Regions from separate parts of the Homo sapiens genome. Here region 1 is linked to region 2. A link means that fine-mapping ties the variant in region 2 to the expression of a gene that starts in the linked region. Tissue or cell type: prefrontal cortex. Region 2 holds a variant in brackets; the other region holds the start of a gene. All regions are shown on one strand. Distances are from middle to middle.

The links. PIP is the estimated chance that this variant, and not a neighbour inherited with it, causes the effect.
Region 1: it holds the start of CA3, and the variant in region 2 is fine-mapped to the expression of CA3 in prefrontal cortex (BrainSeq, PIP 0.95).

The regions. Positions count from the first base shown.
Region 1 is chr8:85,435,393-85,443,504 of GRCh38, forward strand. CA3 (carbonic anhydrase 3) reads left to right here and starts at 3,467. Exons shown (of 7, transcript NM_005181.4): 1 at 3,467-3,551; 2 at 4,320-4,517; 3 at 6,681-6,799. The coding sequence starts at 3,518. CA3-AS1 (CA3 antisense RNA 1) reads right to left here. Exons shown (of 3, transcript NR_121630.1): 3 at 6,414-6,845. RefSeq lists enhancers at 2,780-3,303, 3,304-3,826.
Region 2 is chr8:85,201,053-85,209,164 of GRCh38, forward strand. It overlaps E2F5 (E2F transcription factor 5), which reads left to right. Exons shown (of 8, transcript NM_001951.4): 2 at 1,095-1,204; 3 at 2,042-2,203; 4 at 5,125-5,168; 5 at 6,373-6,437; 6 at 8,090-8,112. Among named protein-coding and RNA genes, the nearest start is that of RBIS, 15 kb to the right of the region's middle. The variant C/T (reference allele first, on the strand shown) is at 3,154.

The DNA of each region.
Region 1 (8,112 bases), 230 kb after region 2:
CCTTACATATAGCATCTCGTTTAAGCCTCACGAGAACCCTGCAAGGGGGGTTATTTTCTCCATTTCAAAGATGAGGTGAATGGGGTCAAAGAAAAATTTAAGCAAATGGCCACCTAAATGCTTCTGAAATGTCAAAGCAAAATTTCACCTGTTATTTCTATAAGCAAATGCCATCAAGTTATTGAAAACTGAAGTTGAGCATTTAAATTTGATCCTAAAAAAATCATAAAGTTTAAGGAACTTTCCTCCATTTAAGGTGTTATTAATATATTTTAAGAGAAGAATTTGTTTTTGAAAGAAAATAGTTTGCATTTGCTGACCCTGATGATGAAATCTTGCTGCACAGATTTGGGAGGACTTCGTCTTTGGATTCATGCTCCTACTCTCAAATAAAGTGACTACCTTAGGTTGATACATTCCAGGGAGGGAGACCAGTTGGGACAAGGCCTAGGCTGCTCTCCTACAAATTTGCCATGAACAGGAGCCAAACTCTAAGACCTGATTCAAGTGGCCCAGCTGTCACTGGTGACACACTCAGGGGCTGGGCCTATCATGTTCTTATACAACCTAGTGAGTCAAGCTTTGGAAAATAACATTGTCAGGGAAGAACGTAAAAGTTACATTATTTGTGACAGTTCAGTAGATTAATCAACAATTTTAATTTTTATCAGCCATTTTCACCTTTCTATGCCAGAACTTGTTTCATAAAAATGAAAATGTAATAGAAAGTGCATGCCTCTATAATATGTAAAATATCTAGGCAAAATTTTGCAATTACTTTGTGGGCAATTTCTCACTCTTTTTTTTTTTTTTTTTTTGTAGTGCAATAGAAATGCCAAATGGTAACTTGTAGAAGATTTGAGTTAGTTATATTACCTGATACCTTGCAAAACAAAATGCCAAGTCATGAGTAAAATATAGTTAAATTTTATATCCTTAGCTCTTCAAGTTTATAATGTTAACGTACAATCCTAGATGAAACTTCTATATTGGACACTATTTCCCCACCAATAACTTTTGTTTATTTAAATATTTTCCTCTCTCTTACTCTCTCTTTCTCTCTTTCTCTATATGTGTACAGTCATTTCCTACAAATTGCCCAATATATCAACTTTTCAGTAATGGCACTGTGAGAAATGCTGCCAATATGCTAGGAGATAATTTGTAGTTAATCATTGCTCACTCTTTTTTTTTTCTGGCATTATTTATCTCAGTGTATACCTAACAGTTTTCTTTTTCAGGTGAACTCCAGAAATCTCAAAGTCTTGAACACACAGTTTAGAATTATCTGTTTATTGACAGAGAATTTTGAAATGTATAGGCAAACATGCTGGAATAAATCAACTAAGATGCAGATAGTAAATTTGCCGATGAGGTTTTTGAAAAATGTATTTGCAGAAAAATTTAGATAAAGTTTCTGAAAAACTTACTATGGCCTAAAATTACATGACTTAATATAAATTGTCTTGAAATTCCAATTTCTATTAACTTCTTATGGGAAAGTATAATGCAATACAAATCGTAATTTTAAAGGCTGCACATCTAAAGCTATTAAATATTTCACTTTGCAAAGTTTACCTAGCATTTATTTGAAATTATGTGCTATTGTGCGCATTTAAAATTAATCATAAATAGCACTTTTTTTAAAAAAGGTATCCTTCTATGCATAAATAATAACAACATGATGAATTTCTAGATCGTTCTTGGTATAAATGTTATTGTCTTCTCTGTATGATTACTATATCAAATAACATGAAATTTATTTGCCAATCTTCTAACCACTCATACCAGAAAAAGAATATTGTAATGATTGAGTGGATTGGTTTACTCATACAAATAATTATACATTTTATAAGAACTACAAAACATCTCCATTAACCACTGCAGTCTTTCTGATCAAACAGTGACAGATAGGAGCTGAGAGTTTAAGGGCATTTGTTTACTATGTTTGCTTGGATTTTCCGAACTGCCTTAGTTCCTGATTCCACACTGCTATTGTGTGGATCAAATAATCCCTTGTCACAAAAATACCCTGGGGAATGACTCCCCTGGCGTCCAGGTTATGAGTGTGGTCAGTCATTCCACATGCCTTAGGGATGAGCTATCTGTGCCATGACGAGCGATTTCCTTTTCGAGTTTTGTAATCCCCAAATACTAAATACTATTATCAATAAAAGTTAATTAAGGAAATGTATATCGAAATATTGTTCAAGATAGCACTGAAATTAGGTTTATCTTTCCTCATTGTCTTAAAAAATTATTACTGAATTAAAACAGGAGAAATTTTACAATATACTCTTAAAATTGTAAATATCTACTACTGACCTCTTTGATATGAACCATAACCAGACATTTAAAAATATACTTTTGTCATGTAGACACACTAGATATGCCACTTTTATTCTCCTTTGCATGGTTCAATGTATAAGAAAACAACTTAGTAGGGGGAGAAAAAAATTAAAAGCCATTCTGTAAATCTTTCCCTCTTTCTTTTCTTGCAATCTCTCATTGTATCTTGGAGAGCAAGACCACAGGTTTTAAGAAATATGACTCATTTTATGTTAGTGGCCTTCCAATACTTCAGAATATTCTTGATTTTTCATGAACAGAGGTACAGCTCAGGGAGTGTGGCTAAATCAGTCCCAGTCTCCAGCTCCGCGTGAACCTGGGATCCAGACATCTCCTGGATATCTGGCGCTCTCTGAGATCCAGCCCTCGGTTTCCTGCAAGCCAAAAGGATCCGCTAGGTTGGGAAATGCCGCCTGGTGCGATTCCAGAAAGGGCCATCTCTTTAAGGATAACGGACTTGGAGGGCCTCTTCACCCTCTCACCCTGCTCCGGACCCTTTCTTCCCATCCTTTGCTCCTAGGATTTTACATGTTGCCTGCAAAGGGAGTCAAACTTAGGGGGCAGGCAAACAAACGAGTTCTTTCCAGCCTCTGTAACCGGATCGCTAGAGCGAAATAAACTCGCACAAGTGTCCAGAGATCGTAGCCAGACAGCCAGCCTGCGCTTGAAGCAACTTTTAAGTGAGGCTGCAAGAGCCGCCGGGATGTAGATTTTAGTTCGTGGCCAAGCACAACTACGACACCCTGTCCCTGCCCCCACCCCATCCCCAAGAATGCATGGAGGAAGGAGAGAGGACGAGGTGAGGGCCGCCTGCATTTCTGCACGTCGGCGCCGGTTAGAAACCCTGCAGTTTTGAGAGAGAAGAAGAGGAGATGGAGGGGCCAGGAGCCACGACTCCCGGGAGAGCGCAGGGAGGGGCGTGGGTGCCCCTTCGCCCACCTCCGCCCCCGTCACCTCGACAGCTGTCCCGCTCTTGGAATTCATTGGCTTCCTCTACCCGGCCTCCCAAACACCACCCCAATCTAGTTTAGCCCCCCGCCCCACCCTCGCTGACCTAATAAGGCCATGCAGTGTGCGGGGGAGCTACATAAAAGCGCGGGCTCGCGGCGACTCTGCACCACGCAGGGGAAGAGAAAGCAGGAGCCGTCCAGCACGGAGGAAGGCGACCATGGCCAAGGAGTGGGGCTACGCCAGTCACAACGGTGAGTGCAGGCAGCCGCGACCCGGCCAGGAAGGGATGCCAGTCCAGGAGAGCCCTGCCATTGCACAGAAATGGGCAACTTTAGAGACTGCAGTGGAAAATGTAGGAGTAGAATAAGACCTAACATTTACTGAGGCTTTTCAACTGCCAAATGCTGCTGCTTCTTTTTTTCCTTCATCTCATTTGGTTCTCCCTAGTATGGAGTTTTTATTTCCCTTGGAGAAAACTGAAGTGCAGAGAAGTTGGATCACTTGCCTAAGATCCCATTGCCTCTGAGAAGTCAGACAGCCCGAGGTCAGGTGTGACTGGCCCTTATTCTGTTTTACTGGACAAGCACCTAACCTGAGCTTGGTGCCGGTGTGAGAATCTCTGCTCTGCCTAAGCTTCTCCCTAATCCAAGGCAAAGGAACATGGGTGTGCTCTGAAACCCACAACACAATGCTCAAATGTAGGTGGTCAATATTATTTTATTCCAACTCTATGATGGAAGGTGTCATTGGTTAAAAAAAAATGTGATAAAGTTTATCTGAAAAATAAGCCTTTGAGCAGGCAGAGTGAACACACTGAGTTAAATAGTCTCCATGTGTGCTATTCACAAAACTACCAACAGGCCTGAAATGAATGCTAAGTCTCTTATTGCCCAGTCTGAAACCTAAGACCTTTTTGAAATCACTGTCTAGCCTCTCTGTATTTTGCTGGTTTAGTCAATTAGAAAGAGGCCTTGGGTTGTGCCACCAAATAAATACATCTCCTCGACTTTATTTCCTAGGTCCTGACCACTGGCATGAACTTTTCCCAAATGCCAAGGGGGAAAACCAGTCGCCCGTTGAGCTGCATACTAAAGACATCAGGCATGACCCTTCTCTGCAGCCATGGTCTGTGTCTTATGATGGTGGCTCTGCCAAGACCATCCTGAATAATGGGAAGACCTGCCGAGTTGTATTTGATGATACTTATGATAGGTCAAGTAAGTATGACAATGAGGTAGAATCACATGGATGTTTTCAAGGTCCATATTGACAAAATGTGGTTTATGACACAGTACCAGAATTAATGGGGAGAGGGAGCACTTTATCTTTTAAAATGCAGATGACATTTGACTTTGCTTTAGTCATGAATAATTATATTTATGTATTGAAGAGGAATGTCACACCCTCCAAACTTGGTCTCTGTGAAAACGGCCCCATGTCCAAGCTAAAAGTTGGCAATGCATTCCTGAAATGGAACACGATAGGACAGAGATGACAATAAACTCAAATGAGTATTCTTCAGACTCCGATGGCCTATACCTGAGGGTTCTTGTGCTTCTTGTCCATGGTCTGGAGAGCCAGGCTTCCACTCTCAATTGCATAGATTCCATTCTACAAAGCCAGATATACAATAGAAACCCTAAATAGGCACTTTCTTCCCTTGGTGCCTGGGAGGTGACCAATCTAGGGGAGAGAACAGGGCCACTGAAGGTGTCAAGATGACTTGCCTTCAAGCCTTCAGTGGGGTTCATCTGATTAATCATTTGGGTGAGTATTTTTGAAATATCTGACAATTTCTTCTTGAGTAGTAGTTTGTGTGTGAGACAGCGACTGAAAAATACATGTTTAGAAAAAACAAATCTCTTTATTTCACCTACACTAGTAAGCAAATCAGTATAATAAAAGAAGACTAGTCAGAAATACTTTATTTCACGATAAATGAGGTAAGAAAGAATCTTCCTTTAATATTTTGGTGCTTGATATACAGCAAAATAATTCCTTATAGCCCCATCTCTAATAAAGTTATATTTATTGATATACATAAATGAACATTCTTAATGATTTTGTAATGAAGAATGATATTCATAATTCCTACCTACCAGGAGGTTCCAAGTTACAGAAATTTAAATTTTCTTAAACAGTGGTTTCGTATTGCTATTGTTTCCTTTTTTCCCCTTCTCCTTATATATCAAGTACCATTTTGAAAGCAACATAACAAAATTAAACATATCTATTAGGTTGAACCATATGAAAATGCCATTTTTGTGTGCAAAAATAGTTGAATATTGTCAATTTCATATAGTTTCTTCTAATAAATTGGACTCACATGTCCCTATAATAACTGTTCTGAGTGGTTGGACAGGAAAAATGCAATGAATTGAACCACTCCATTTCTACCTGAACAAACTCATATAGGCCTAGCCTCATTGTTTGAGGTCTATATTTATGGCTTTCCCTGGGCCACTTAGTGTGGGCAACCTCTTCTAAAATAGCTATGCTCTGAATTCTATTTTGATCTAGCTTATATTGCCAAATCTTGATCTTAGGGTTTCTGCATAGTTTCCAATATACTTTGGAAGACATTTGAACCTCTAAATCACTCTGCAATGGGTTGAGATGTTTATCAACAAGCCCAAATTAATGCTGCTGAGAATTATCTAGTTTAATCATCCACATTGATTGGTTTTCTGGGAAATTTCTGAATTTTCCATTTCATCTCATTTGAATAGACACAGTCTAAATTAGACGTAGATGAAAGTTTTTGCTCGTTGTCTTGAAGAAAAGTGTAGTTGGAAGCAACACGTGGAGAAGGAATTCACATCTGCTCAGTGATCATCATGCAGGCACTATGATGAGCACTTTAAGGTGCTTAATCTCAGTTAATCTTCACAGCAGCTCTGAAAGTTTGGTATTATTATCACCTTCTTAGAGATGTGAAAGTGGGTTCAGAGAAGTTTAGCAACTTGCCTGAGACCACAGAACTAGCAAGGGGTGAAGCCAGCATTGGAAACCTACCTCCACCTGGTTCTCAACTGTCCAGTTCTTCCCACTGCACCACACTACTGACTTGTTCTTTGGGTGTATGCATCCTCATTGTCTATCTGTTGTTTTAATTTTGCTTTCCTAAATGTTAAAATGATGTTTCAATAATAATGAAACAAGCAAACAAAATAAGAAAGACAGAAAAGAACAATCATTTATCTTGACATATCCCCAGACTTCATTTTGTGAGGAGTCCAGTGTCCTGGGAGTGGCACCATCCACCCAGCAAACTGACCACATTTTGTCCATTAAGCCTTGGCTCTAAGAGCACTTGGTTAAAGTAGAGCTCTGTAAAAGAAGCATGAATTCACTGTTGACCAAGCTTATCTGAATCACAGTGCTGAGAGGGGGTCCTCTCCCTGGACCCTACCGACTTCGCCAGTTTCATCTTCACTGGGGCTCTTCGGATGATCATGGCTCTGAGCACACCGTGGATGGAGTCAAGTATGCAGCGGAGGTAAGAGGAACTGCCATAATCCATTCTCGGTCTCATACAGTGAAAACTGCAAAATTAAAAATAAGAACCACAGCAACAAAGCATCATCCACTGCTTTTGTTTCAAGTCTATAGTTATGAAAAGAGCTGTACTAGTTTTAGCTGAACTGAAGCTGCTGAACATTCTAGGCTAGACAGGTAAAAGGGTATAGGTGAGTTGGCATCAAACATGAAGATTTCCAAGGTTATGTTAAGAAACTGGGGCGAGTGCAGTGGCTCACACCTGTAATCTCAACACTTTGGGAGGCTGAGGCAGGTGGATTGCTTGAGCCCAGGAGTTCGAGACCAGCCTGGGCAATATGGTGAAACCCTGTCTCTACAAAAAATACAAAAATTAGCCTGGCATGGTGGCATGCACCTGTGGTCCCAGCTACTCAGGAGGCTGAGGTGGGAGGATCACTTGAGCCTGGGAGGTCGAGGCTGCAGTGAGCTGTGATTGCGCCACTTCACTCCAGCCTGAGCAACAGAGTAAGACCCTGTCTCGAAAAAAGAAAAACCCTAAAAGTTAGAAATTGGATAGCTACTTAATAAGAAAGCCCAGGGTCCTCAATGGAACTGGAAAAAGGATAGCTAATACTTATTAAATGCTTACATGTATTAACTCATTAGATCCTCTTAGCTACCTTATGAGACAGGTTACAGATGAGGAAACAGAAGGCATAGAAAAGACACATAATAAAGTCACACGGCTGGTGAGTGCTAGTGCTCTACCTGATACAGACTGGCTTCAGAATTCATCATCTTATCCAGTGCCCTATACTGCCTATTTTATAAGAATATAGTGCTCTAAAAATAGCATTTAGAAATTCTGAATAATGCTTATGTTCCAATCTCTTAATGAACCGTGTGCATATATATGTGTGTGTGTATATCTATATATACACATGCATACATATTTACACACACGTAGAGATATGTGTACACACATACCATTTAATCTGAGCACATACTACTCTCTGTCTCAGTTAACTCATTAAAGAAAAACATGAATTTTAACTCAGATCAACGCATCAAATTACAAGGGTTTAAGACAGGCCTCTGACATGTTCTCTTTATAAAGCCAAACCAATAAGTGGTGGCAATTGCCTTGGAGGTGAGGACCAATTCATTTTTCCTGCTTTATTCTTTTCCAAAGATAGGCTCTGGTTAACATAGGGGCTGTGACAGAAGCTCAGAAACACACTATGAACATGTTCTTAAGCAGAATCATTAGGCATCTTAGTTCTTGGTTAAATTAAATTCTGTGAAACCCAAAGTACTTCACTGTGATCTTTC
Region 2 (8,112 bases):
ACTGACATTTCTCTTAAGATCCCAAATGCCTGTACAGTGAATATAGCTGTCAGTGGCACCTTCTCTGGGGGGAAGGCAGGTCCAGATTGCAAACACTGTGCTGAGCTAGGTTTTCACAGAATCAAGAAAGTAGTGATGCTCTCTGGGAGAGCTGTTAGCAATTATGCGAAGCTGGGAGAGCTGTTAGCAATTATGTGAAGCTAAATCCTGTTCATTTAGATATTTTAGATAATGTGCTGAAAATTGTCAGTAGAGACACAAATATTTGTAACTACCATGGATCTTAAAATGTGGCTCCACATTCAAAATAGGCTATTGTCTAATCCACTCTGAAAACTTCTTTGAGGTTCTCTTTGTTCTTTTGGGAACACACATCAAAAATGTGAATTGGAACTAATCAGAGGAATTGTTTGTTGAATTCATAACATGATAGCATATATTGTTTTGTTGATCTTATCTAATGTGAATGCAGCTACCAAGTTTTTGTATAATAGTTGCTAGTGCAATCTTGAGCTATTGATTCTGATTTCTTGCTGATTTTATGCTTTGTGTTAGGATGGCATGATTCATTCCTCTGTTTTCGTTATTAATTTAAAAATGTAGATATTTATTTCAAGGTATTATAAGTGTGCATATAGTTCAGAATTTCCAAGTGTCTTAATTACCAAAATAAATTGCTGAGATGTAATTCTTTAAAATTTTAAAAAATAAGTAATGCATCTTTAGATGAGACTGTTTATGAACAGAGAAATAAGATAGGAGGTGACATGGATAGGCAATTAGTAGCTCCTCCTCAGGATTAGTCCATAAGGTGACACAAAGTATTCTTATTGTGTTCTTTTATTTTTGCAGGCTTTGTGTCATGACCTTAATTTCTTTTTCTGTTCCAACATCTGCTAGCTTTTAAATGGAATAATTTCTTTGGTATTTGCAGTGTTTGGGAGATGCTTTGAACATGCTCAGCTATTGTCCCCAAGCAACTGAGTGGGTCAAATTTGAGATTGGACTTGTTGTGGATTTAATAATCAACCCTTTTTGGCTTTAAAATATGACTTGCCCTTTATTTCACTGTTCTCGTTGTCTTTCCTGAACAGGCTGCTGATACTTTGGCTGTGAGGCAAAAAAGGAGAATTTATGATATCACCAATGTCTTAGAGGGAATTGACTTGATTGAAAAAAAGTCAAAAAACAGTATCCAGTGGAAGTAAGTTACAAACCAGCACCCTCTTCTGAAACCTTTTTTCTTCTCAGTGCTCTGTAAAATTTGACCTTCCCAATGTTTCTATCTCCCAAATCCTCTATTTCAGTCAGGCCCCTCAGCTTTCCCTGAACACACCTTTCTGGGCCTCTGTGTCACTCCTGTGTTGGGTGTTCCCTTGCTCTCTTGGATATTGGGTTTTCGCTCTTAAAATTCAAATCTTACTTTCTCCCTCAAGCTATTACTCATTTGGCACACATTGCATACTGTCTTGTATTAATCTCTTCCTAACTCTTTACCTGTCCTTGAGAGCAAGAACTACTTTCATAGGAATTTGTACTTTGTAAATAGTAATTAATTGAAACGCATGTTGTCATTAATTGTGGCCTGGTTATACGTTTGAATGTAACAATTTCTGTTCTTCTAATGTGTCCCCTTTGACCATAGTTTTTGTCTTGTTTTGTTTTCGCCAAAATTCCACCAAAACATTAAAATGTTGTAATTTATTTTACCAGCACCTCAGTCACATCCTGAGACTGCTAGGTGTGACTGCTGAGCACACTCTTTTGGTACCCAGTCACCAACCAGTCTGGCCTTCCAGATGACAAAAAAACACTGTAGGGAAGATTGAGAATTTTTGTAATTTGGTTGTTCTTGTCAATAAATTTTCTAAGCAAGAAGTATGGTGTTTAAAATTTTTAAGGATTTTAGTGCTTGATTTTAAGAGTGTAAAGACTTCTGTCTTGAATATATTACTAAATAAGTCAGTTTTATTACAGTAAAAATTAAGTGATATTAACCTAGATCTGATACTGAGGATATTAATTCTCATATGTTTTTAAGAGGTGTAGGTGCTGGCTGTAATACTAAAGAAGTCATAGATAGATTAAGATATCTTAAAGCTGAAATTGAAGATCTAGAACTGAAGGAAAGAGAACTTGATCAGCAGAAGTTGTGGCTACAGCAAAGCATCAAAAATGTGATGGACGATTCCATTAATAATAGATATCCTTTTAAATAAGTTATGCATATACATATAGCTTTGGAATATGTATGTATAAATCATTTCAGTCTAAAGATCATTCACTTTGTTTTTAGACAGTTAAGTTTTATAAGTAAATATGACATTTTAATTTTATTATATTCTTATATACTAATATTTTCTAAATGTTACCTTTTTAAGTTATATAGTACAGATCCGTTAGCGTTATTCCTGTGTTGCACTGAGGGGGAAAAAGAGATTAGCCAACTTTTGGTCTACCAATTGATAGAATGCAGTATGCTAGCCAGTGTGCTTAGGAAATCTGTGAATATTAGAAGCCATTGTTAAGTACATTTGTATTTTTAAATAATTATGTTCAGTGTTCTGAAGTATAAAATTCAGCAGCTCTCAAAGTTTTGAAAATTTTTCGTTTAAAGATGAGATATGATGTGTCCACAATCAATCCTTGATACTTTCTGCCTAACATGAACCCCAAAATAGTTCCTACTGGAGAACAGGGGTCTAAGTCGTGTGTGCCTATCAACAATATATATTGGGGGAAAAACATTATTATATATAATACATATAATATCATATATAATATATAAAATATATTTATATATAATATATAAAAACATTATTATATATATAAAAACACATATCCATGTGTTTCTTACAAACCACCGTCTTCTCTCAGGTATCTGTGATTCTCTTAGTTTATGAACTTACCTGTACTCTTAAAGAAACTAACCACATTTTACCTTGTAGCACCTCATGAAATTTTGACTAATGTATACAATATAATTTACTTTTCACATTTTCATGTATTTGGTGAACAAGTCCATGATCTCATTTGTTATTTCCTTTGTATGGATCAGAGCCCCTTAACAGTTTGAGAACAATGGGAGTTTTCAAGCTGTGTTCTGTGGAGCTCTGAAATTCAAAAGCCATTAATCTATTTTATCTTGGACTT[C/T]GCTGCCCTGCTTTACGAGATGCTGGCCATTCCCATTGCCCCAACCATGGTTATGTGTGATATATATAAAGTTTTCTGTATATTATGGTATTTTGACATCTCCATAAACCTTTCTGGCTGAGGAGAGACTGCCCATCCTGGGACTAGCCACTTCTTAGAAACAGCATGGGCTCATGTCCTTTTTAGGGTCATGGATGACGCTGGAAACCATCATTCTCAGCAAACTATCGCAAGGACAAAAAAACCAAACACCTCATGTTCTCACTCATAGGTGGGAATTGAACAATGAGAACACATGGACACAGGAAGGGGAACATCACACACCAGGGACTGTTGTGGGGTGGGGGGAGGGGGGAGGGAGAGCATTATGAGATATACCTAATGCTAAATGACGAGTTATTGGGTGCAGCACGCCAACATGGCACATGTATACATATGTAACAAACCTGCACGTTGTGCACATGTACCCTAAAACTTAAAGTATAATAATAATAAAATTAAAAAAAAAGAAACAGCATGGGCTCAGCCAGGAGCATCCCTTTGATATATAAACTAACCAGTCAAGGTCCAGACCTCCTCTCTCCAGTCCATACACCCCAGGTGGCAATATTCCTCTGCCTTAATCATCCCAGGGTCAGGTACCAGACAACTGGGGGACTACCTGCATAGCTTAGAGCCCACCAAAATTATCCAAACTAGGCCAAATGCAGTGGCTCACGCCTGTAATCCCAGCACTTTGGGAAGCCAAGGTTGGCGGATCACCTGAGGTCAGGAGTTTGAGACCAGCCTGGCCAACAGGGTGAAACCCTGTCCGTACTAAAAGTACAAAAACTAGCTGGGCATGGCAATGTGCATCTGTAATCCCAGCTACCAGGGAGGCCATAGGAGAATTGCTTGAACCCAGGAGGCAGAAGCTGCAGTGAGCCAAGATCACACTACTGCACTTCAGCTTGGGCGATAGAGCAAACTCCGTCTCAAAATAAAACAAAACAAAATTATCCAGACTAGCTAATCGTAGTGTTCTCCCCACCCTGCTTTTTTTTTTTTCCTGAGATGGAGTCGCTCTGTTGCCCAGGCTGGAGTGCAGTGATGCGATCTTGGCTCACTGCAACCTCCACCCCCCGGGTTTAAGCAATTCTTCTGCCTCAGCCTCCAGAGTAGCTGTGATTACAGGTGCTCACCACCATGCCCTGCTAAGTTTTGTATTTTAGTAGAGATGGGTTTCACCATCTCTAGACTAGACTTCTTTTTTTATCTGTCCATGTGTGGCAGCCCCTCTGTGCATATGGTCAGGCTGGTCTTGAACTCCTGACCTCAAGTGATCCACCTGCCTCGGCCTCCCAAAGTGCTGGGTGGCGTGAGCCACCATGCCCAGCCACCCTGCATTTCTTTTCCCAAGGAAACCCCAATAAAAGCTCTGGGCTAATGCTTTCCCCTTGCTCCTGTCTTCTGCCTCCTGACCACCTTGTTGTCTTAACCATGTGGCCCTGAGTAGCCTGCCTTGCCTCCCGTCACTAGGACCTATGAGTATAATACTTTGTTTTTCTGAGCCTTTCTTTAATCCTCTGTGTCCTCTTGTGGCCATACCTGACCATTTAATACAAGAACAAAAAACAACGATCACAGAAAATTCCTGATGTGGAAGCTGATATGGTTGCTGATGGCCTCCTTTTCCCCATCCATTCCCTTCCCCCAGAAACCTTTGCCTCCATGAAGAATGTGCACTGCTTTCCATCTCTCTCCTAAGGGTCCTCAAATGTCACAAAAATCAGAATGGCTTCTTCTAAGAGCAAAGGATGGGAACTCCTTTGTCTTTACCTTTCTAGACTAGACTTCTTTTTTTGTCTGTCCATGTGTGGCAGTCCCTCTGTGCATATGGTCATTTAGTTATTTTGACCTTCAGATGTATTACCTTAATTTAAATGCCTACGGCTTGATATAAATGTCGTTCCTTAACTCCTATGACAGTACATTTTCCTATGTAACTCATGAAGACATCTGTAATTGCTTTAATGGTAAGTACCATTAGACTTTTCCTTGCATTCTTCCTCTCAACCTATTTAGTGGAGGGTGATTCAGAATTCCCTGTGTCCTCATCCTGTCATTATTTTCAGAAGTTGTGGGCATTGTGTCTCACTCCACCATGCCGTGTATTGATAGACTGCTTTTGTTTCTGTTTTCATGAGAATAGCTGCTTTTCACAGCATTCAGTTCATTAGCTCCACTGGTAGGGATCAACTGTGTGTGGAAGGGGAAGGGGACAGGGACAGAGGGCAAGCTAAATCAGAGCGGGATTAAGCAACTTTCATTGTCACACAGTCACAGAGTTAGTGACCAAACTTGAACTAGAACATGGTTCTCATCAGCATTGTTTATCAAACTATATGCAAGTATGCTGGTCTCAAATGAAACTCAAAGAAACCATAAGGAAAGAATTAGGTGAATCCATCTTATAACCAGGAAACCTATTCCTATGCAATTTGCTGCCCCTGTGTTTTCTCCTTAAAATAACAATATCATGTTAATAATTATAATTATTAATATAACTAAAATGGGGGGACGTGTGTTCCCAAAATTATAGCACAAGTAAAATGAAATTGTGCATATTTAAATTTATGTGTATTATCCACCTATTTAAAAAGATTCTGCCAAGTACCTCATCAAGTGGAATCTGACTTTCTATGTAAGACTATGTTGGAAATAAGTATAGGACTATTGTTCTATTTTACCACTGTATTTCCTGAGTTTTTTAAGGAAGTTTGCTGAGACTTCTGTTAATCTGCAACTCAACAGAGATTTGTTGTAGAATTTGGCTTCAAAAATAATAAAATCATTTAAGCTCAACATTTCAGTGTCTCATACCTAATCTCCACTATCCTCAGTCCAATGAACAGTGTTATTTGAGGCTAAATGGTCTTAAGAATCTCAGACTTTACAGGAGTCTTAGTCAAAGCAAAATCAACTTGAGCTGAATTTGTTAATGAGAATCATACAGCTAACCCATGTATAATACTAATACATGTATTATCTTATTTAATCCTCAAAATAAATCTATGCAGTAGGTTGTGTATCCCCCATTTTATAGAATTGAAAATCAAAGCTCAAGGTCACCTAGTTTGGGATTGAACCAAACACTCTGATTCCAGAGCCCACATTCTTGCCACTGTATTCCATGATCAACAGTATTTTATGTAACTTTTTATATTTATTTTTGACCAGGTGATACACTTTTGGCCATTCAGGCACCTTCTGGTACACAACTGGAGGTACCCATTCCAGAAATGGTATGTAGGATAACTTATGTTTATATAAGTGGGAAAAATGAATCTACTGTCTCAAGAAGGATATTTTCTTTAGCTGAATGTGAGCTAATTGTGTAAACACTGTGAGTTAGTCAAGTTTTTATCTAAAAGTATTGATAGCTGAATTTGTATGTCTTTAATTCCTTGGTAAAATTATAGAACTAAATGAATCATAAATGATTTTAAAGATTATTGGCTATATCCTTAGTCATTTATTGATATCATTTAGCTCAAAGTCAATTTTTAAAAAGTAATCAGAATGCTTTATCAAGTGATTTTTGTTTCATACAAAAATTAAAACTATTGTATAAAATTATCTTCAGGCTATGTGAATAAGGTGTGTATGAAACAAATGAATATTGTGTTTAGACTTGGGTCCTATCCCTAAGATATCTATCCCCAAGTAACCAAATGATTTAAAATGATTTAACATTTTGATTAAATTATTTTAAATTTGAATTTTTTAAGTTAGAGGATGTCAAGAAATGACTAATCATATGGCCAATAATCTATAAAAATAAGTTAAAATGACCACATTGGGCTGGGTGCAGTGGCTCATGCCTGTAATCTCAGCACTTTGGGAGGCCAAGGCAGGTGGATCACTTGAGGTCAGGAGTTTAAGACCAGCCTGACCAACATGGTGAAACCCCATCTCTACTAAAAATACAAAATTAGCCGGGCATGGTGGTGCATGCCTGTAATCCCAGCTACTTGGGAGGCTGAGGCAGCAGAATTGCTTCAACCTAGGAGGCAGTGGTTGCAGTGAGCCGAAATCGCGCCATTGCACTCCAGCCTGGGCAACAAGAGTGAAACTCTGTATCAAAACAACAACAACAACAACACATCTACAATTGATATAAAAATTGCCACTGAGGAAAAAGTTCAATGTACATATCAACAATCAATTCCTTTAAATTAGGTCTTTTATAAAACATTGTCTGGCTTATTAAGTCAAAGACATTTATTGACTCTATGAGTTTCATGATTTTCGTTTTCAGATTCAGATTTTTAAAAACAAACTAATTTGAAAGCAATAACCAAAAAAGGGAGTAGAAAAAGATTACTATATTATCTACCTCCTTCCCCCACCCGCTTATTAAAAAAGTTTACATTTAGGCATTTGTATTACTGGAGTCTGAAGCCTCAGGATACAGATTACTTTTTCAGCTGGAAGAATGTTATATTTATTTCTCAGTAGGAGAAATTAGTTGTCTTTGTGCTTGCAGATGGGAAAAAAAAGAGTTTGATTTGTGAAGCATGTTGAACTGACCAGATCTGTGGTGGCCAACTCCAGGGGATAAATTTCCTGTATATGGAGAATACCTGGAGCATTGCTGGGCCCTGACCTATTATATAGTCACACACGGTAACAACAGATGGTTGCCAGAATTCTACAACAGAGAGTTTCTAATGATCAGTATTTGTGAAAAGCTTACTTTTTAGAAACTAGTGGTTTAGAGCCCTCAAAATTACATTCTACTCTATGTCTCTACTTTTGTGTTTTGACTTAATGACTTTATTGTGTTATGTGAATTTAGTAAGTCCCTAATAGCTTTGCCTGTCTTATTGTACTGTCTTAAGTTAGCTAGAAATGTTAATAATTATACATTTGTTTATACCCAATAACTTCAAAGGGTCAGAATGGACAAAAGAAATA